Regions from separate parts of the Homo sapiens genome. Here all the other regions are linked to region 4. Evidence: fine-mapped expression QTL. A gene starts in region 4. Each other region holds a variant in brackets. All regions are shown on one strand. Distances are from middle to middle. Region 1 overlaps DAPK1 (death associated protein kinase 1). Region 2 overlaps DAPK1 (death associated protein kinase 1). Region 3 overlaps DAPK1 (death associated protein kinase 1). Region 4 holds the start of DAPK1 (death associated protein kinase 1).

Region 1 (5,654 bases), 62 kb before region 4:
GGAGCCTGGGTCTCCAATGGCACTGAGGAGCTGCCAGATAAGCACTGTCCACACACAGCCCCACTTCTGGATGAGAAGAAAATGAACCTTTAACTTAAGTAAACTGCTGTCTAAGGGGCTTCCATTTCTAGCACCCAAATGCAATGCCTATCAAACTTCCATGGAGCAGGGGAATCCCCCAGGGCAGGTCTGGGGAATTTCTTTATTCAATGGGAAGTTAATGACCCAGAGAAATAAAAAATCAATGAAAGGTTTCATTAGAATAGAAATTCACTCTGGCTAACATATTTGGTGTATTTTTTTTTTCTTTTGAGACGGAGTCTCGCTCTGTCGCCCAGGCTGGAGTGCAGTGGTGCCATCTCGGCTCACTGTAAGCTCCGCCTCCCGGGTTCACGCCATTCTCCTGCCTCAGCCTCCCGAGTAGCTGGGACCACAGGCGCCCGCCACAACGCCCGGCTAATTTTTTGTATTTTTAGGAGAGACGAGGTTTCACCGTGTTAGCCAGGCTGGTCTCGATCTCCTGACCTCGTGATCCGCCCGCCTTGGCCTCCCAAAGTGCTGGGATTACAAGCGTGAGCCACTACGCCCGGCCACATATTTGGTGTATTTTGTAGCAATGATTGGGGAGGGCATAAAGGCTCAACTCTTGCTGCCCAAAAGATAGGAAATAAGCACAAACGGCTCCTCATCTAATATATTATTGGTTCCGCTATTTTAATTTCATATTTTATTTTGGGGAAAATGAAGGGAAAGGACAAAAAAGTAAAAGACAAGGGCACTCAAATGTCCACTGATGGATGAATGACTACATGACATGAGATTTATACACATAATGGAATAGAATGCAGCCTTTAAAAAGGAAGCACATCCTAGCCAGGCGCGGTGGCTCACACTGGTAATCCCAACACTTTGTGAGGCCGAGGTGGGTGGATCACCTGAGGTCAGGAGTTCAAGACCAGCCTGGCCAACACGGTGAAACTCCGTCTCTACTAAAAATACAAAAGTTAGCCGGGCGTGGTGGTGGGTGCCTATAATCTTAGCTACTCGGGAGGCTGAGGTAGGAGAATTGCTTGATCCTATAAGGTGGAGGTTACAGTGAGTGGAGATCATGCCACTGCACTCCAGCCTGGGTGACAGAGCAAGACTGTCTCAAAAAAAAAAAAAAAAAAGTACGTTCTGACACATGCCTCAACGTGGATGAACCTCAAGGACATCATGCTAAGTGAAATAAGCAGGTCACAAAAGCACAAATATTGTGTGATTCTACTCATGTGAGGTATCTAAAGTAGTCCAAATCACAGAAACAGAAAGTAGACTCATATCTGCCAAGGGGTAGGGGAAGGGGGAGTTTGTGTTTAGTAGGCACGAAATTTCAGTTTTGCAAGATGAGAAAGTTCTGGGGAAGTGTCACGCAACAATGTGATATAGCTGACACAACTCAGTTGCACGCTTTAAAATGTTTAAATGGTAAATGTAATGTTATGTGATTGTAACCACATATTAAAATAAACTTTCAAATAAATTTTAAAGTTCCAAGGGCAGGCTGGGCATGGTGACTCACACCTGTAATCTCAGTACTTTGGGAGGCCAAGGCAGGCAGATCACTTGAGGTCAGGAATTCTAGACCACCCTGGTCAACATGGCGAAACCCCGTCTCTACTAAAAAAAAAATACAAAAATTAGCCAGGCGTGGTGGCATGCACCTGTAATCTCAGCTACTAGGGAGGCTGAGGCAGGAGAATAGCTTGAACCCGGGAGGAGGAGGTTGCAGTGAGCCAAGATCGAGCCTGGGCGACAGAGCAAGACTCCGTCTCAAAAAAAAACAAAAAAAGAAAAAAGGAAAGAAAAAGATTCAAGGGCAGAGGAGGGAAGAGGAGAGAGGAGACTTCATAAACCAAGGTGGGGAGACAAAAGAAGCGGATGGAGGCAGAGGAAGGGCAAGATAGGGGGCATGAAGAATGGGGGCCTTTCTGAGGAGTGGGCACACGAGTCTGGTGACACTGGGTCACTCACTGGGGCAGCAGGCATCAAAGGTCCACACCAGAGTCCTTTCCAACACCCGGGACTATTGTAGACATTCGCCTGCTCACTGGTCTCAGTTCAAAAAGAACCATGCAGCAATTCTTGGAGTTCAGACATTCTCACAGCCTGAGCTGCTTAGTACCTAGGAGGGGCTCAGCAAAGATCTTTCAAATCAATCAATGATCAAACAGTGCTAATCAAGTCCAAGGCGTCCTACATCCTGCTTTTGAGAGCGTCCTGGGAGGGCCCTCAGCTGCAGGGAAAGTCCACCACAGTAGCTACTAGTCACGGTGCTAGTGAAATTTAACTAAAATTAAAGAATATTAAAAATTTACCTTTTTGGAAACACTAGTCCCATTTCACATGCTCAACAGTCACATGTGGCTAGATGTTACCACACTGGGCGGCACAGAACATTCCCATAATTGCAGAAAGGTCTATGCACAGCATTGGTGTAGATGCTACCCTACCCTACACTACCCTGCCCTGCCCTACCCTACCCTAGCCTAGCCTACCCTAGCCTACCCTAGCCTATCCTGTAATAAAAAGAAGCATACCTGGGGCATTAGAAACTCTAGAGTACTAGAGATGACACATTACCTCTACCTTAATTTCTTCATTTGTAAAACAAGGATAATATTTCATCTAACTTATAGGGTTAAGTAGATTAAATTAGATAATACACGTCAAGCACAAAATCCCCGTCTCAGAGTACAGGCTCTACGAATGCCAACTGTCATTTTGTTGGGGAGAAGGAGGAGATAGCTGGTGCATGCATGTGCACACACATGCACCTGTGATTTCTTACAGAGAGAGACCATGACTTACCCTCCCCTCCCCCAGAGTGGGAACAGTTTTCAACAAGTGACTGGAATGGGTGGTACCTCCCTGATGCCCCACTGGGTAGAGGCCCTGTGGGCAGGTTCCAGGCAGTCTGGTTTCTCCTTTCCCACCTGCCTAACAGGAGTC[C/T]GCCCACATGGAGCATGGGAATCATGCTTTCTGCACGTGGGAGCCCAAATGGGTAGATGCAGCTCACAGAGCAGGCTCTAACTGAGCCCCCATGTGGCTATAGCAGGCTGTCCAAGGAATCCAATGAAGCAATGAAGGGGTCTGCAGACAGGAACTACCAAGTCAACAAAAACTCCCTCCATCACAGCCCTTCCCTGCAATGACAAGTCACAAACAGCAGAAACCAAGAGACCAGCTAGTATCGAGGAATTGTTCGTTTTCGTCGAAAGGGACGTTGGTGTGCAATGACCACCTTACAGCTTGTGTATCTGTACTCACACGGCTGTGTGTGTGTGCATATGTGTACTTATGTATGTGGAGCATATTATCAAGTGATTCTGAGATCCTGTATTCATGGAAGATTTTTAGTTGCAAAGCTTATTCGACTAGATCCCTTCATTCTTTTTCATCTTGCTTTATTTATTCTGTCCCGTTGATCTGTGGGTATATCCTCAGGGGTGCAATGCAGTCCAGTGGCCTGCTCTTGACAAAAGAGCATGATCCATTTTGGTAAATAGCTCCTGGGATGCTTCAGGGAGAGGTGCTGACAGGCCAAGATGCATACCCACTGTGCAGTAACATGTGAGTCCCTAAGAGAGTCCATGACCACCATGTGAAACCAGACAGACCACAAGCTTCTGGCAGCTCTCAAGGGGCTGGCAAGATGACAGGACTGTGACAAGCTAACTGCCCATTACCACACTGGGCAGGACCTCACAATGCTGCTGATCAAAATTAAAATGAAAGATTTATTATGGCTGAGCAAGTAAAAGAAGGAAAACATCCAAAAGATTCCAAACTGACTTATCCAACAAGAGACACGCCTGGCTAAAGGATTCGGTTTTTGTTTTTTGTTTGTTTGTCTTCAGACGGAGTCTCACTCTGTCACCCAGGCTGGAGTGCAATGTCATCATCTCAGCTCACTGCAACCTCCGCCTCCCAGGTTCAGGTGATTCTCAAGCCTCAGCCTCTCAAGTAGCTGGGACTACAGGTGCATGCCACCACACCGAGCTAATTTATGTAATTTTAGTAAAGACGAGGTTTCACCATGTTGGCCAGGCTGTTCTCGAACTCCTGACCTCAAGTGATCCACCCACCTTGGCCTCCCAAAGTGCTGTGATTATAAGCATAAGCTACCGCGCCCTGCCAAGGATTAGGTATTTTTTAAAATCCAACACATTTTTCTTTTAATGGATCACTTCTCAATGAGTAATGTTTTAACAGGAGGGGGGTTCTGTAAGAGATAGAAAAAAAATCTAATGGCTTTGTCCCAAGATCATTTGTCAATAAAAGCTACTGACCATTTAATATTATTTTAAATTCATAATTCCTTAATCGGCATGGTTTTAGAGCTCACAAAAGATGTTTTGAATCACAGGAAGAAAGCTGTATTTTCTTCATGAGATTAATAATCTAATTTGGAAGGACGAGGAAGGCAGTGGGTGAAACGTAGAAAGAACACGACAGGAAGGTACAGGACAAAGGGTCTCCCCTGACAGGGCCATGGTGGGAAATGAAGATGTGGGTTTCCAGACTCTTCTCAGATGGATCTGAGCATTCCTCATGGGGCTGCCTGGATGGATGTGTGGCTGCCAGGTAACACTTGCTTTGAACAAAGGTTCTGAGCCCAGAGGTTTGAAAACCACTGGCCTTACAATGCCAGACACTGAGCTTCGAGGATGTTGAGGAAGAGTTGCTCCTCCCTTCCCGCAACACCGCCAAGAGGGAAGGGTGAGGGGAAGGGCCAGGCTGCCTTCCTCTTTTCTGTTCTTTATGAGATATGAATCCCTAGAGGCCAAGGGGAAAGCCGAAGGTCAACTGCCCACCTCCGCCAAGGTTCCTGATAACACATCTCAGAGAAGCTCCTCTCCCACCCACAACTGCAGGACTGGCTCTTCAAGGAACACGCCCAAGGCAGCCCAGGAGGCCTGGCCTGCAAAGGCTCTGCCCAGCAGGCACAACTCATGTCTATTCTCACTCCCTACTAGAAACAAGGACCAAGAAAAGCAATTCCAAACCTGAGGAGAGCATTCCTTCTCCTGAGGGTATGGGCTGAGGAGCCACACAGGCCTCGATATGTTCTCCAGCGAGCTCCTGGAGCGAGAAGTACCACAGCCTTGTACCATGATCACAAGTGAAAGACCTCACCTTTCAGAGACCAAACCCTGCTCTGTGAAAGGGTAGCTGAGGCTACTCCACAGAGTTTCAGCAGGAGACCGCCATCCTCCCCATGCTCTGCCAATCCCCCGCACTCCTCCTGACATTAGCATGATGGGGCCAGGCTGTAGCATTCACTGATGTGGCCAGAATACTAACCCATGCATGGCTTCCCATGACACTGAATAAATCCATGATTCAAAGACAGCAAAAGGAAGCCCCTTTGCCCGTGACGGGCAGCATGCACAGTGGGTACAGGTACACACACGTGGGCACCCTCCCCAGCTCTGTGAGCTTTGACAAAGGAAGCTTGGGCAAAGTACCTTGCCTCTCTGCACCTGTTTCCTCCTCCATAAAATCAACATAATACTTGTACCAACCTCACAGCGCTGTTGTGAAGATTAAATGAGGTAACACAGGAAAAAGCACTTAGAACAATGCCAGCCCACACAGGTGCTGGGCTGCAT
Region 2 (5,654 bases), 110 kb before region 4:
AACCCACAAGAGCTCTTGAAATTACCTTTGTGAATAAAGACAAAAGTTCAAAAAGTCAAAAGAGCTGGCTCGAGCTCAGAAAAGAGAGAACAAATGTGGCAGCAAAAGAACGCATTGAGGAAGTCTGAGTGTGTGCTATTGTGGTTCGTGAGCGCCCAGAGAGAAGCAGAGACAGGGAGACTGAAGGGCTCTGTGCCACACACCCCATTTATCAGCTTCCCTAAGTCCCGACCACCACATTCAGCTCTGTACAATTTTTGCCACTTTTAAGATCCTTTGAAACTATCACTTTAATCACTGCATGTGTTTCTTCAAAGGCTCTTGCGATTCTGATCTTGCTGACCAAGGCACCATGTGTTCGTCTACATACATGCACCACGCTGACATACAATGAAAAACAAAGTTGTATTTGTATTCTGATTATTTTGCATCTCAGTTTGGTTATGAGAGAGTGAGCCAACTGAACCGTGATCCTACATAAAGTGACCTAATATTGCACAAATGTTTGAATACAACTTAGCAGTTGTTTGTGATGGGCAAACTGAATTCCAGAAATTATTAACTTAGCCAAAGTAAAACACAGAGCTAAAAAGGAGTTGTTCAATAGGCACAGCATTTCAGTTTTGCAAGACGAAAAGGTTCTAGAAATCTGTTGCACAACAATATGCATAGAATTAACACTGCTGTACTGTGCACTTAAAAATGGTTAAGATGGTAAACTGTATGTTGTTTTACCATGATTAAAAAAATCAGCAAAATTTACCTTTTTAAATATAAAAAATGCATTATTCACTCCACGCCCTGCACTTGGCTACAACCATAGCAGACTGCACTAATTAAATGGAATTTCCTGTCACAAAGAAAGAGAGAGAAAGCTAAATGGGGTTACTCTGTTTTAAAGATGTGCTTCGAAATGGAAGCAGAACAAATAAGGGGAGACATTTAGGATTGGAGAACCAAACTGGCTTGATTTCTCTGGAACAATCCACCATGCCAATACTTACTTGGCCATCTTAGCACTTTTACTTTATAATTCTTAACATGGTAACCTTTCAGACATGTGATCCAGAGCTACTCAGGTGACCATCCTGAAGCAGGCCAGAACCTGGTGATGTCCATTTCTTCCTTATCTTATGTTAGACTCCAAACCCCCACCCCCGCTCCAATCCTTCTCTGCTCAGGCTATCTGCAGGGAGTGAGATGTATGTATTGCGTCATTTTGCAGTTACCTGATGGCATTACCATAATTAGGCATTATGTTTTGTTTTGTTTCTAACTTGCTTATAGAATTTTAGATCAACATGCGAGTAGGCTCCCAGTCCAGGAAATCTAGTTTCTGTTAACTGGTGCCTCTGTGTTAGTTTCCTAGGCCTGCCCTAACAAAGGACCACACATGGGGTGGTTTAAAACAACAACCTGCTATCACATAGTTTTGGGGGCTGGCAGTCCTAACTCAGTACGTTGGTAGGGATGGTCCTTCTAAGGGATCTGAGGATGAATCTGCTCCATGCCTCTGTCCTAGTTTCTGGCAGGTTCCTTGGCGTATAGATGCTTCACTCCATTCCTCTGTCTCCACAGGGCCTTCTTATAAGGACACCAGTCCTATCAGATTAGGTTCTCTGTGCTATTCCAGTATGACCTCATCTTAACTAATTACATCTAAAACAATCTCATATCCAAAAAGGTCATGTTCTGAGATACTATGGTGCTACGGTTTGAATGTTTGTCCTCTCCAAAACTCAAGTTGAGATTTAATTGCCATTGTAAGAGTGTTGAGAGGTAGGGACTTTAAGAAGAAATTTAGGCCATAAGGGCTCCTCCACCTTCATGGGTCAGTTTAGTACCTTTAAAAAAGGGCTCCTGGGAGTGGGCTCTTGCCCTCTCTTGCCACGCGATGCCTTTTGCCATGTTATGACAGTAAGAAGACTCACATCACATGCAGCAAAATGTACTTCCTGCCTCCAGCACTGTAAGACATAAACTTATTTTCTCTATAAATTACCCAGTCTGTGGTCTTGTTATTGCAAAACCCAAAATGAACTAAGACAGGGACATAGCACTTCAACATA[T/C]CCTTTTTGGGGAGCACAGCCTCTCAAAAGATGAACCCAGACCAGCAGCATCCGCATCACCCGGGAATCTGTTAAAAATGGAAATTCTGGCTTTCAAGGTTAGGAAAAAAGGAAAAATTGAAATTCTGGCTGGGCGTTGTGGCTCACAACTGTAATTCCAGCAACTTGGGAGGACAGGGTGAGAGGGCTGCATAAGCCCAGGAGGTCGAGACCAGCCTGAGCAACAAAATGACACTGAAGCTACAAAAAATAAAAAATAGCTGAGTGTGGTGCCACACACCTGTAATCCCAGCTACTCAGGAGGCAGAAGTGGGAGAATCACTCGAGCCCGGGAGTTCAAGGCTGCAGTGAGCTATGATTGCACCACTGCATTCCAGCCTGGGTGACAGAATGAGACCCTGTCTCAAGAAAAAAACCAAAAAGTCAATTCTGAGCTGGGCCCAGTGGCTTACACCCCAGTCCCACCTACTCAGGAGGCTGACGCAGGAGAAGCGCTTGAGTGCAGGAGCTTGAGGCCAGCCTGGGTAACATAGGGACACCCCGTCTCTAGGAAAAATAAAATTAAATAAAAATGCAAACGCCTAGGTCCCACCCCAAACCCACTGAATACAAAACTCTGGAAGCCTGTCAAATAGTCAAACAAGCCCTTCAGGCAATTCTGATGCATGCTAAAGTTTAAGAGCCACTGTTTTAAACTGTATATTTTTTAAAAAAATCATTTTATAATGCTAAGTGTGCATCTTGCCCTTCCCATAGAATCACTAACCCTTTGAGGCAGTCTTTCTCATGTTACTTCTCCTATAGTAGTGATCAACTTATTGCTTACATAAAACAGGCTAGAATTTGGAAGTCTGTGCTAGATAAAGTATGTGCTCACATACTTACAAAGTATGTGCTAGATAAAGTATGTGCTAGATAAAGTATGTGCTTACATAAAACAGGCTAGAATTTGGATTGTGTACAAGACACACAATCTTCAGATGTTTTATTTTGTCTGTTCGTGAATACTATGAACTGACTGCCAATATTAAAAATCTAGATTACAGACTTTTCCTGAAAAAACTGGAAGAGCTGACAACACTGAATCCAAAATTACACACAGGAACAATCAACTGATTGGTGGCTGTCCCTTCGGGGTGGGGCCTCAGGGCTCCAGTGGGCCACAGTCTCCACGGCTGGTGCATCCCTGACACTGAGGCTTCATGGAGGCCAACCATCCTCATTTACATTGTATGCCTAGCCCCTAAGGGCACTTGGGTTTGAACAATGGCTGGGCAGACAACAGCTAGACAGAAAAATGCATAACTATCCACAGACCAAAATACCTAGCTGTTTCTGAGCAGCAAGTTTAGGAATGGAAAGCTAGAAGCCAGGGCTGCTGAGGAACAATGCCACACACTTTAGAAATAGCATCGACTTTAAGTTCTGTGAGTTTGGCTTCGCCCTTCACCAGATAACAAGGCGAGTTATGAAACGATTCAAGCACTGAAGGTGAAAGTTTTGTAGTGGCTTGCCCGTGTGATGATGTGTGGGTGAGCTGCAACACAGTAAGAAGAAATTTTGGTATTGGCACGACTTCATTAGAGAACAATGGGACGTGGAGGACATGAAATCCGAAATCGTGATTTTAAGAAATCACATTTGCCTCCTTCAGGTATATGCTATGCTGAGCTGCAATGACAGATCCTCTGTGAATGATTCTCCAGTGAAGCAAGTAGGGGAAAAACATATGCCTTTAAAGCGACTTTCAGGCTTGCAAAAATGGTAAAGGGCAGATCCTGGACTGGGATTTGACAACTGCACCATTAATGCAGATCCCAAATAGTTTCTGTACAAAGGACAGCAAAGATACCTTTTTGGGTCAGTGGCAGTGGTTCATGAAATACCAAGAGAAGGGGTAGTTTGGGATGTTTATTTCAGTGGGAAGGATGGGCATGGAGTCTGGAGGACAGAACTCACATATATAAGGTAGAGACAGGCACAAGTTTTCAACAAGGGGACCCGCTTCATCACTAACCCTCAGAGGAAGTTCGACTTGCCGTGGACTTCATGTCAAAGCAGTAAATCCAAAAACTATATCCACACGGAAACTACTGAACCAGAAGATTCAGACACACAGCCACTATTACCTCCTGGGGTTATATTCTGACAAGTTCTTCATTTTGATTCTCTCCCTAACCACCCCTGTACTTCAGCATTCTTAAGAAAGAAAAGTGGAAATGGAATCTGTCACTGATGACTAAAGCTTCTGTTAAAGACATTAGAATTTAGGATGATAATTTTCTCAAAGGCAAAGACGACTGTTTCTCCTGGACAGATTTAATATTTTCAATAGTCTATTAAAAATTATAAAACATAACCTCCAAAACAAGTATAGCAAAAAGAAAAAAAATTATAACACACCTCTTCAAGGTAACGTAAATACATAAAAAATGGGACAGACTTCCAAGATAATAGTAAGGGTGCACTTTCTGTTCTTAGGTACTTAGTGCCACTGTATTATCAGGGTTCTCCAGAGAAACACGCATCATACCGTGCATATGCATCCTACGCATCATATGCATATATAGGAATTTGCTCACATTATTATGGAAGCTGGCAGGTCCCCAAATCTGCCAGGTGAGTCGGCAAGCTGGCAACTCAGTAGAGCTGCTGGTGTAGTTCCAGCCCAAGCCATCAGGCTCAAGACGCAGGAAGAGCTGATGCTTCAGTTTAAGTCCAAAGGCAAGGAAAAGCCGGTGTCCCAGTTCAAAGCCACGTTAGGCAGGAAAAATGGTCTCCTACTTAGGGTCAGCCTTTTTGTTCTATTCGGGCCTCCCGCAGATTGACGGAGCCACCCACATTCCCGAATGTGTTCTGCTTTATTCAGTCTACTGATTCAAATGCTAATCTCACCCCAAAAACATCCTCACAGAATAATGTCTGACCAAATATATGGGATCCTCATGGTCCAGTCAAGTTGACACATGAAGGTAACCATCACAACCCCTCAGATGCCTGGGTGGTGAAGAGGCAAAAATAGTCAGCTCCTAGGGGACACTAGAATTTATGAAGAGCAAATAACCAGGGACCTGTCTAGCCCTGTGAAGGATGTGGCCAGCTCCTAAGGGCCCTCCCGCTCACTCCATCTAAAAGCTGTTCCTAGTGAGATCGCTCAGCTTTCATTTAGGGTCATCATGCAGTTAACAATGTAAAGCTGTATGCCAAGATGCAACTATTAGAAAGCCTACAATTGAAAAACAGTACAGAGCCCCACTGGTGGAGCAATCGGAATTCTCATCCATTGCTGCAGGGACTGTAAAACGGTATGCTCACTTTAGAAGACAGCTTGGCAGTTTCTCATAAAGTTGAACATACATTTACTACACGATCCAGCAATCCCAAGATCTCTAGGTATTTACTGAAGAGAAATAAAAACCTATGCCCACACACAAGTCTGTATGGGAATGTTTGTAGCAGTTTTACTCCTAATTATCAAATACCAGAAACAACCCAAATGGGTGAATGGTTTATAAAAAATCCATACAATGAAATACTACTCAGTAATAAAAACGGACTCACTCTTCATGCACAAATCTCCAATGC
Region 3 (5,654 bases), 120 kb before region 4:
CTCTCCCTCCCCCTCCCCCTCCCCCTACTCCTTCTCTTCCTCCTTCTTGACTGGGCTTAATTCTCCCTGCCCTTCCATGACCTGGAAATCCCAGGACAGAGGACCACCAGCCCATCAGAGGCACACAGCTGATCCGAAGGATGTGCTGCCTGTTCTTTAGCCACCTTGAGACATGGAGAGCCGCAATTTTAACAGGCATAGAGCAGAGCGATTCTTCCCTTAGTCTGAGGAGGGGGAAGAAGGGTTTGAGGAGGAGGAAGCGATGGAAAAGGGGAAAGAGCTGGAATTCACTCAGCAGGTGCTAAGGCTGTCACACGTTTTCTATCCCAGTTTCCCTCTTTGAGCTCTAAAACACCTGGCCCTGAGAGGAGAGGGAATCAGAGACCAAGGAGGGGCACGAGCGGAGGGGCACGAGCAGAGGGTCTCCACCGCCCACCTGGGGAGAGGGCCAGGGAGAGGGTGGCCTGAAACCCCGCTCTGCTGGAAGCAGGGGCTGAGAGCAGAGATCTGCCCCCACCAGAGGCCTCTAAGGAGAGCAGATGAGGTTCAGATCTCCTTTTCAACAGCATCGTCTGTCTGGGCCCATGCATGCCAGAGTAAGATTGGGGTGAGTGCCATGGAGGATGCTGTAATGGGTAAAGGAGACTTAGGATTGTCTGAAGAGCTCATCTTCTGAAGAGCTCATCGGCTTTCTTTCCTTCTTTGCAGAAATATGCATTGGCAGCTGTTACGTGATGGGCATGACTCTACCAGATGACAACGACAATCAGCAGCATTACTTTCAACCGCCCACCTCTGACTGTCATTGGCCTCTAGCATAACAATGCCGGCCATATAATAGGTTCTCAATGCCTGTCCCGTGGAGTCCCATCGACTGTCCTTCTATTGAGCTCGTTCCCATCCCATGCATCCAGCTTGAACACATGGTCCTGCGTCTCAATCCTCTCAGGCCCAGGGTGGAAATCAGCCCTGCTGACAAACTGCCCCGTTCTCATGAGAGAGGACTACTTAGAGTATGGCAGGTCACGTGCAAGGCAGAGCCTTCGGGAAGCAGTGCCTGTGGCTCTGTTTCCTCTCTTCACCCCACTGTCCTTGCCATGAAAAAGCTCCTCATTGCGGTTCCTCAGAGTCCTTACTGTTGTTTCCCAGCCAGTCTCCCTGACAGAATTCAACTTCAACCACTTTCACTGGGCACTGACAGTGTGCTAGCATGTACATCCTCTCCTACAAGGTTGGCACAGAAAAATAAATCAGTAAAATACTGGCACATCCTCAGGAAGCTCACAGTCCACTGCAGGAGAGACACATAAATGTTTAAAATACAGTACAGTATGTGCTATAATCGACACACGCCTAAAAAGTGAGGAAAACACAAGTACAAAAACAATTAAACCTAACTGGAGTGGGTAGGAAATCCAGAGAGGGTGACATGTGAGCTGGGTTTTGATGGATGAGTAGGAGTTCTACAGGGGAACAGGTGTGATCTGGCAATGGCAAGACATTCTCTGTGGGTGGAGCATCAGGGCAGAGGCAAAGTGGGGTGGAAGAGACATGGATGAATATGGGGAGGGGCCTGGACACAGGTTCAAAGGCTCTGCACCACTCTACCAATCATGGACCTCATTCAGCGGGCAGGAGGGAGTCATCCAAGATTAAATCTTTCTTGATATATAATTCACGCACCATACAATTCACTCTTTTAAAGTGTACCACTCACTGGGTTTTAGTATTTTCAGGGTTATGCAACCATCCCCACAATCTAATTTTAGAACATTATCACCCCCAAGAGAAGCCCTGTGTCCATGAGTAGCCACCCTACTTTCCCACCACACTCCCACCTGCCCTCGGCAGCCACGCAGCTACTTTGTGTCTCCACAGATGTGCCTACTCTGGACAGTTCATGTCAATAAAATCATAGGGTGGGTGGTCTATTGGGTCTGGCCTCTTTCACTTAGCATGTTTTCAAGGTTCATCCATGTTGTCACAGTTATTTTCCTTGCCAAGTAACAGCCCATTGAATGGACATACCATATTTTGTTCACTAGCTGAGGGACATTTGGTTAGTTTCCACTTTTTGGCTAGTATGAATAATACTTCTACCACTTTCATGTGTAAGTTTTCATGTGGAAATATATTTTCATGTCTCTTGGGTACAGTCTGAGGAGTGGAAATGCTGAGTCCTATGAAAACTACGTTTAACATTTTGAGGAACAGACAAACTGTTTCCCAAAGTGGCTGGAACAATTTACATTCTCACCAGCACTGTTTGAGCATTACAATTTCTCCATATCCCCACCAACACTTGAGATTGCCTGTCTTTTTGATTAGAGCCATCCTAGTGGGTGTGAAGCGCCATCTCACAGTGCTTCTGAGTTATAGATCCTACTGACTAATAATATTGAGCATCTATTCATGTGCCATTCACCAAAGATTCTTCAGCAAGAGAAGCAGCTGTTTTGTAATGAATCCAGGGGTGAGCTCAACAGGAGAGAAACTAGAGGATGCTGTAATAATTCAGGAAGAATTCTTGAGATTCTGGGCCAGGGCCAAAGTAAGAGAATGGTAATAAGGGAAGACTCAGAAGCTCTTTCTGTGGCAGAGCCTGCAGGACATCACGGAAGACTAGATGTGTGCCACAGTGGAGAATAGGGGAGAAGAATGAAGCAAGGAGAGCTCCAAGCTTCCCAGTCTGAGCAACCAGGAAGATGCAGATGCCATGGACTGAGCTAGAGAAGCAGAGGGGAGCAGGGACTATGGAGGGAATGCTATGAGTCCAGTTTAAGACACGTGAAGTTGAGGTACCTGGGGAGACCCGTCTTGGAGGAAATGTCGAGTAGGCCACTGGAGAAGCAACTGTAGGGCTCCAGAGAGACCTAGAGACACATCTGTAGGGATTACCAATTGATTAGGAGGTGACAATTGAGTATCATGGGCTGCATACAAATTAATACACTTTGCAATAAATATAAGAAAGTTTTGGCAGCACCCTTTCAGTGGCAGTAGTGGAAATGGAAGGTAGATGAAAGTGATCTGAAGGGGGAATGAGAGTCAAGGAAGAGAAGGGAGTGAGTATGGATTGCGTCCTGTCTCCAGGAAAACTCTTCCCATTGCATCCATTATAAACGTGGATGTCAAGGAGCACCAAGACCACTCGCATCCCTTCTGAGATGGATGTGGCACCCAAGGGGTA[G/C]AAGAGGTAGGTGGTGTTGAGCTTTCCTGCTAGGCAAGTGGCCCTGGCAATGGAAAGCTATCACCTGCCAAAGAGCCAAGACTTCTGGCCCTCACCCTCCATGTCTCTACCTCCCCATTCCAATAAGGAAGTGGAAAATAGGAAAAACAAAAGGGGATCATGCTTCCAAAAAAATGTACTCCCTTTTAAAGAATTTCTGATGGGCAGAAAGTCTTTGAGAAAAGAGGGCATGAGATCAAATGGACCCTAACTATGCAGTGACAAATTGTGCATTTTTCAGTGGAAGGATGCCATTGGGGAAGGGGGACACCGGGAAGTTTGGGTTGTAACTACTTAGCTACAGCATCAGGACTGAAGTGTCATCTGGACTAGAGAACCAAGACAAATCTCTTTGAACCCAGAGTGAAGTTACTTTCTCCCTGCCTCTCCAGATCTATGCTCCAATCTCCTACATCCACTTCTGGGTTTAGGGAGGCTGCTCATAGAGACTGAATCAAAAGGTTCCCTTGAAAACAGGACACTAGTTTGGTTTGGCCAACAGGTAGCCCCACAGAAAAGGAGAACAGTTTCCAGCCATGTGGCCGTGGATTTGGCTGAGGCCCTCTACTGAGGCTCAGCTTGTGTTATGCAGTGCTCTCCAGGAAGTTATCCATTCCAGGGTCCTCACACCACTCCCCTGTTTTACTTTTCAGGCCCAAGGGTGATGACAGCTCCATTCTCAGAGGGTGCTTCCCCATCACTTATCATGTTCTCCAAACCTTGCACACATGTTTGTTAAGTCTCAAATTTCCCTGTTTGTGTGGGCCGTCTGTTTCCTGGTAGGACCCAAACTGACCCAAACCCTGATACTCAAGAGGATGGGGTACTTTGCTCTTTAGGAAACTCAGTCAAGAGTTTTCTGAAGCTCATGCAAGTAAATCAACGTTTCCCCCCAAAACTGTCCTTCTCCCTGGTCAACTAACTGGTTCTTGAGCCACACGTGACTCTTTTTCAGATCCTGCTGTTCTTCCTGCTCTATCTGGACTTGACATCCATGTATTGGGCCAAGCACAGTCTTCAGTGCTGTGGGTGCCAGAGTAGGACGTAGTCTTGCCCTCAAAGAAACATATGCAAGGGGCATATAGGCACATGCCACTATCACACCAGAGCCCCCATGAAGCCATCCCACTCCTAGGCTTCAGCAATCCCACTGGAAAACTAGAACATCTTCTGCCCACCCCCAACTTCATGGAAATGCTAAGAAATGAGGGGCAAGAACAATGCAGCCACGCTAGAGAAGGAAGCAGAAAGGTGAGGGGCCCTGGGAGGCCAGGTTGGCTTTCAAAAGCTTCTAAATCACTGCTTTCAAATGGAGGAGGAGCAAATGTGTCTCCAGAACCACTGGAATGTGAAAGTCACTCTCAAGAAGGAAGAGCAAAGCTGGCCAACCAGCCCACAGACAATGGGGCCTTGCAGGCAAAATCCTACAGTGGCTTAGCAGAATCCTAGGGCTTAGAAAACTCAAACAAAAGAATTCTCTCTCCAAGAGGCTACTGTCTGAGAATGAGCATCTCTCTACCGGCTCCTGTGACCTATATGTGGACAGAGGGGGCACAGCGTTCCTTACCTGCAGGGTGGTAACACCACTCTCCTAGAGTTGCACGCAAGGATTAAATGAGATCATTTCAGGGAGGCGCCCACTGTGGCTGACTCAGAAAGGTAAAGTGAAGGGCAGTTTCCCTTTTCCTCCAAGGAAAGCCACTCAGTTGTTTAACCATATCCTCTCTTCAGGCAGTTTGGGAAGACCCATGCCTAAGTGCAAGTGCCTTAAAAGTAGTGAACGTTCTACCCTACATTTTTGAAATAATCAACTCTACTTGAATTTTCCTATCAAAATATTAGGGGAAACGTCAATGACACTTCTGTCGTCCAGGGAAGACCAGGTCCTTGAGCCCATTTCTATGTAACTCTGTTAATTGAATAGTGTTTGCATCTCACAGTAGCCATGCTCGGTCACTGCCTTCATTCAGAGGCTGGAAATGAAACTGACATTTCAACACGGAACAAGCACATATTCCCAGCGGTCCCGCTGGATCCCTGATGTTCCTCATTTGCATTGCAGTAATTTTGACAATATTAAAAACAAGTTACACACAGGGAAATAAAGAGTTGTTAAATAGAAGAAGGTGAGGTAATACTTGGTTATCTGGAAATACAAATTAGGAGGAAAAAGCAGTATGAGGTTGTTCTTGGAAGTATTTGCTTGTTAAACCACATTTTGCAAGGACGTGAGGCAGAAGGGGATGCTCTGAGGGGCTCAAGGACGTCTTGGGAAGACTGTCACTGACCTGCTTGCAGATACTGATCTAATAAAGCAATGCTCTCATGACCTGTGGCCTAGGCACTCTCCGTCTTGGAGTACCAGCTGGAGACGAACCATCCCCGGCTGCCTGTCTCCAACCCTCACTCCAGTCACCATCCCAGA
Region 4 (5,654 bases):
TTAGAGAAATACTCTGTTACAGTAACTTTTAAAAAAATTCTACACTATCATTTGAATTTTTAAAAAAATTTAGTTAAGCTTAGTTTCCATAATTCTCATTAGGCAATCCAGGATGTGGGTGTTTTTTAATTTCCTTTTCATGGAGAAAAAGGAAGCTTTGTATCAGGACATCAGATGTATATGGGAAAATACATATTTCAATGCACATATAAGTAAATACATATTTTGTTTGTTTAAAGATCCTTTTGCCTACTCCACTCACAATGTAAATACACCACAGTCAAATTCCATAAATTCAGTTTTAAATGTATGTATGAAAACTAGGTTTTCTACTAAAGTTGACCAGAGCCCAAAACACTCTGTCTAATACACAGTCAAAGGAAACAGCAATCAGCCCTTAGATGCCCCGAAAGAAACTATTCTTTGTTTACCTAGAAACTGAAAGATTTTACACTGAGAATCACAGCTGCTACAGCAATGGAGGTATGCTCTGAATCCAGATAGCCATATTAGACTCTCATTGATTTGTTAAAAATTTAACATTGTAAATGAAACCAAAGCAACCACCAACACCAACCAGGTAATTAAATTCCTGGTTGGAAGAAGTTTCAAAATCCAAGCCCAATGTCAACATCTGGCAAGTCTCCATTTACCACCTACCAATACTTGCTCAAATTACACTGAAAATTTAGATAGAGGGTAAAGTACTAAGATTTTTAAAACCTATTAATTAGTTTGTACCCTCCGTTTAAATCACACATAAAAGCTAACTCCAATTGCAATTATAATCTTAGTGTTTGTCCTGTTGTCACAGAAGGGCAAGGGCTGACAAGAGTTAGCACGGACAATTAAATCTGATTTTGTCCAGGGGACTGGATCAATATACTGTGCATCATAATCTAGCCCTGAACTGCTGCCTCTCCTCCACCCCCAGGCCCTTGGATCAGGCGGTTTACCGCTGGGTTAGTAACTCTTTTCTCTATGATTTGCGCATCTCCAGAAAGGGCGAGGGAGACGCCTGATTCAAACTGCATTTGTTTACCACCCAATGGCCCCATCGTTATGCATTTCCACAATCCAGGAGGGTACGCTTCTGGTACCCCCTTTACCTGCCAAGTTCCTCGCCGGTGTCGTAGTAATCATCCACGTTTTCCTGCCTGAACACGGTCATGATAAACTGTCACGCCTCACCAAAGCCCAGGGCACTTCAGCTCCGCTTCCCAGACCATCACCACCGCTCCTGCGCCTCCGTAGCCCCCTCATGCATCAGTCTCCAGTCCTTTTGAAGAAAAAAAAAAGGCAATAATAATAGTAAAATGGCAACCCCAAAAGGAAGTAGACCTCCCCGGCGCTAAGACCCCGCTCGCTGAAGACCGGGTCTCCGGAGCTGCCCCTCCTCGCGGGGTGGAGAGGAGCACCCTTTGTTAAAGCTGGGCGGCCAGGGACGCCCCCGACCCCTCAGCCCCGCGCGCGCGTGGGGCCGGGCACCACGGCACCCCGAGGTCGGCGTCCCCAAACGCTGGGCGGTCTGTTGGGATCAGAACCGGCTCCGGAAGTGACTGGCCTCCCCGCCTCCCCTTTCTCTGCACACATGCCCACCCAGCTTTCCCACCTCCAGGGACGCCGCGGAAGAATGAAGCCCTCGCCCAGACGGTACGCGCCTCACTGGGAGCAATCTCTCTCCAGCCTGCGGCAACGGTGGCACCCCCGCGCCACCTCTCGGCTCCCGCGCCTCTCCTAACACCGTGGCCACCCTCTCCCCTTCCCCGAGCGAGGCAGTCCCCAGAGCCACATTCCTGGCGACTCCCTCTCCGTTACCCGGCCGACCCGGCGTGCGGCCGCCCGGGGGAGCAAGGGAGGGAAGGGAGCGGCCCACCGAGGCGCAGCAGTTCGCTCCAGATCCTCGCGCCCCGACACAAAGCGCCTGGTCGGGCCGGCGCCACCTGTTCTCACCCGGCCCGCGGGGCTGGGGAAGCCTCCCGGCTGCGATCGCACTTCTCCCCGAAGCCAAGTTTCCCTCCGCCTTGGCCTTCCCAGTTGCTCGAGGCACTGCCCGGACAAACCCCACCGCGCCCTGGCTGGGAAAGCAAAAGCTGGCGCCGGGGGTCGGGGGGACCGGGGAGCCGCGCCTGGCTACTCACCCGGGCGCCTGGGAGCTCCCCCGGTCCCTCCGGAGCGCTGTCGGAGGCCGACCATAGGCGCCAGCGCCGGAGACTAGCCGGGGCGGCGGCGGGAACACAGCTAGGGAGTGAGTGGGGGGCGCAGATCCCTCCCAGGCGCCGGCCCCAGACCCTGCCGCTGCGAGTTGCCGAGTCCCCTCCGCGGAGGGAACAAAGTCCCCGGCGTTGGCTCGGTCCGGCTGTCCTCCTCACACTCCGAAGCAGCCTCTCGGCTCCTTGCCGCCTTTTGGGCGGAGGGCGGCCGGCAGGCGGCCAATGGGGACCCTGCAAGCGGGCTGGCGGCGCGGCCCACCCACCTCCGAGCTGCCCTGCCAGGCCGGCGCTGCGGGTTCTGCGCGGCGCTCGCTGCTCCTCCCAGCTCCGCGCTCCGGGCTCGCTGGCGCGCTCTACCGCGCACACCCCGCACACACCCACTCGCCCCACACCCACGCCGGCCGGGGAGCCAGTGCGTCCGCCCGGAACGCGGGCGCCCCACCTGTGACACATTGCTAAGCTGCCCTCTGACTGGGTTCTAGGGAAACACGGTTCTTCCGTCCCGAGATGTGTACTGGGATCCCAGCTTGTGCCGGGCACGGTGCTTGGTATGGGAAAATCACATAGAACAAAACAGATTTTTTTAAATCCCTGCCTTCCGGAAACCTGCATTCTGGTGGGACAGATAGATAATAAATATGTAAGCTAATTAATAAGGTAATTTTGGAGGATCAGTCCTACGTTTACCACGAAACAGGTTAATGGAATAGAGAATGGCAGGAAGGGAGCGTACCTCATTAGACTGGGTTCCTCTGCCGGACTGGTGTTGGAGCCGAGGCTTGAAGGCAAGAAGGTTTGCAATCTGAAGAAAGGGTTGAGGTCTCCGAGACCCAAAGAAGCAACAGAGACGCAGAGTTTATTTGCGCTATCCCATATGCTATTGGCTATTGTTGAGCTGAAATGTAGCTAGTCCCAAATTAATTGTGCTGTAAGTGTAAAATACACATTAGAGTCCAAGACAGTATGGATATGAGAATGAAAAATATCTCATGAATATTTTTATATTCATTACACTTTCAAATGATAGTATTTTGGATACGTTGGGTTAAACAAAATATATTATTAAAATTAATTTCACCTGTTTACTTTCTTTTTTTTGAGACGGAGTCTCACTCTGTCGCCAGGCTGGAGTGTAGTGGAGCGTGGCAACCTCCACCTCCAGGGTTCAAGTGATTCTCCTGCCTCGGCCTCCCCAGTAGCTAGGACTACAGTCGCGCGTCACCATGCCCAGCTAATTTTTGTATTTTTAGTAGAGACGGGGTTTCACCGTGTCGACCAGGATGGTCTCCATCTCTTGACCTCGTGATCCGCCCGCCTGGGCCTCCCAAAGTGCTGGGATTACAGGCGTGAGCCACCGCGCCCGGCCTCACCTGTTTACTTTTTAAAAGGTGGCCACTAGAAAATATAACAGTACCTATGTTGCTTGCATGAGATTTCTGAGGACTGTGCTGGTCTACACAAAGATCCCATATCCACTGGAGACCTCTATCCACTTTCTCTACTTCCCACCCCTTGCTCCCACCTAATGTTTGGGTGGAGACGAAGAAGGGTTGATTCCCCACATCCCACTGCTGGAGAACCCCAAACGGTGAAAAGCTCCTAAAGGGAAATCTATTTTACTGCCTAGAATGATGAAAACTGACAGATGAAGAGATTTCCGATCCATACCGTTGTTCAAATCCCCAGGCTTTCTAAACTGAGTTGGTTCAAATCTCTGTGGTTCAACAGAAATTTTCAACTGTGAAGATTTTGGCCTCTTGAAAACAAGGCAAAACAAAACAAAAGAATACCCCTCAGGCCTTATGTCAAATCCTAGTCTTTTTTTTTTTTTTGAGACGGGTTTTCGCTCTTGTGGCCCAGACTGGAGTGCAGTTGTGAAATCTTGGCTCACTGCAAACTCCGCCTCCGCCTCCCGGGTTCAAGCGATTCTCCTGCCTCAGGCTACCCAGTAGCTGGGATTACAGGCATGTGACTATGCCCGGCTAATTTTGTATTTTTAGTAGAGACGTGGTTTCACCATGTTGGTCAGGCTGGTCTTGAACTCCTGACCTCAGGTGATCCTCCCGGCTCGGCCTCCCACAGTGCTGGGATTACAGGCGTGAGCCACTGCGCCCAGCCAAATCCTAGTCTTAAATAACATTGCATTAATGACCCACAGGAAGGGCACACAGGAATCAAGGGGAAGTCCCCAAATTGGGAGATGGTATTAGCTTAAGCAGTGGGCTTGATAATACAAAAGGGTCTTGAGAGGTGAGAAATACAGTCAAAAATAACAACAACAACAAAAAAAGAGTGATTCATCTGGGAAAATGCAAATGAATACATCTGTTGGGAGAAAAAATTTAAAACACAGATGTTTGGGATAAACTTGGAAGGTGTTTATGGATGACTGCCATATGGGTAATATTTATTTTCTGCAAAATAAAAAATATATTGTCCGAGGCAATTAAAAGGACTGAATCTATTTGGCAGCTAGAATGTCTTAACTACCCTAATGGACAATGATGTTCACCGGAGATTATCTGGAGTAGTGAAAAAGAGCATGAAATTTGGAGTCACAAAATTAGATCTAGTATTGGTGGAACCATTTAACAGCTTAATAACCTTGGATGAGTCACTAACCCCCGAGCTTTTTGTGTACACCAATTTAGACAAGCATTTTAGAAAGGGGAAATGTGGTCATTTAAAAACATATTCACAAATTCTTTGACACTCCCCCAATCAAGAGGTGGAGTCTAATTCCCCTCTCAATAAATATTCACCAACCCTATCTGCTTGCTTCTAAGAAAAGGTAGTGGCAGTGGCACAGTGTAATTTATTTCCAAGGTTAGGTCATAAGGCATTAGAGCTTCTGCCTGCTTGCTTCTCTTTCTCTCTCTCTCTCTCTCTCTCTCTTTCCCTCCCTCCCTCTCCCCCTCCACCCACTCTAAAGCCTTCAGCTGTCATGATTACCCTAGGGCTGCCATGTAGAGACATGTGACAAAACCACAGAAAGAACGAGAGATGCCCAGAGAAGCCAGCTGTCCAGCCCCACCCTCACTCCCAGTTGTTTATATCTTCCAGTTCAAGTTCTGTGAGCAAAATCAATGACTTTTAATGTTTTAAGTCATTATTTCAGAGTGGTTTGTTATGTAGCAATAGATTATCTTCTTAAAAAGAAAAATTAAGAAAACTTTTCTCTTAACACATACCAGGTTCCAGACAGATGAAATAATTCTCTCAATTAATCTTTAAATAAATTAGCGGGGTTTTTATTTAATAAATAAATAAATAAATAAGTGGTTATTTCCACTTTACATGTAAACGTCTCAGTTTCATCACCTGTGAAATGAAGATGATTATAGACCCTTACATATTCCTTGGGTTTGTTGGGAGAATCTAAAGAGATAATGCATGAAACAGGACTTTGTACATTATAAAATACACCAGAATGTTGGATAT

What was found.
Region 1: its variant is fine-mapped to the expression of DAPK1 in whole blood (INTERVAL, PIP 0.98).
Region 2: its variant is fine-mapped to the expression of DAPK1 in whole blood (TOPMed, PIP above 0.99).
Region 3: its variant is fine-mapped to the expression of DAPK1 in whole blood (TOPMed, PIP above 0.99).

The regions. Positions count from the first base shown.
Region 1 is chr9:87,556,183-87,561,836 of GRCh38, reverse strand. All of the region lies in intron 2 of DAPK1 (death associated protein kinase 1), which reads right to left. Among named protein-coding and RNA genes, the nearest start is that of DAPK1-IT1, 5.6 kb to the right of the region's middle. RefSeq lists an enhancer at 1,909-2,078. The variant C/T (reference allele first, on the strand shown) is at 2,992.
Region 2 is chr9:87,608,297-87,613,950 of GRCh38, reverse strand. All of the region lies in intron 3 of DAPK1 (death associated protein kinase 1), which reads right to left. Among named protein-coding and RNA genes, the nearest start is that of DAPK1-IT1, 58 kb to the right of the region's middle. The variant T/C (reference allele first, on the strand shown) is at 2,070.
Region 3 is chr9:87,614,933-87,620,586 of GRCh38, reverse strand. All of the region lies in intron 3 of DAPK1 (death associated protein kinase 1), which reads right to left. Among named protein-coding and RNA genes, the nearest start is that of DAPK1-IT1, 64 kb to the right of the region's middle. RefSeq lists an enhancer at 442-942. The variant G/C (reference allele first, on the strand shown) is at 3,191.
Region 4 is chr9:87,494,595-87,500,248 of GRCh38, reverse strand. It overlaps DAPK1 (death associated protein kinase 1), which reads right to left and starts at 2,382. Exons shown (of 26, transcript NM_004938.4): 1 at 2,142-2,382; 2 at 1,110-1,279. The coding sequence starts at 1,171. RefSeq lists silencers at 1,424-1,533, 1,744-1,933, 2,304-2,653, 2,674-2,733 and an enhancer at 1,276-2,033.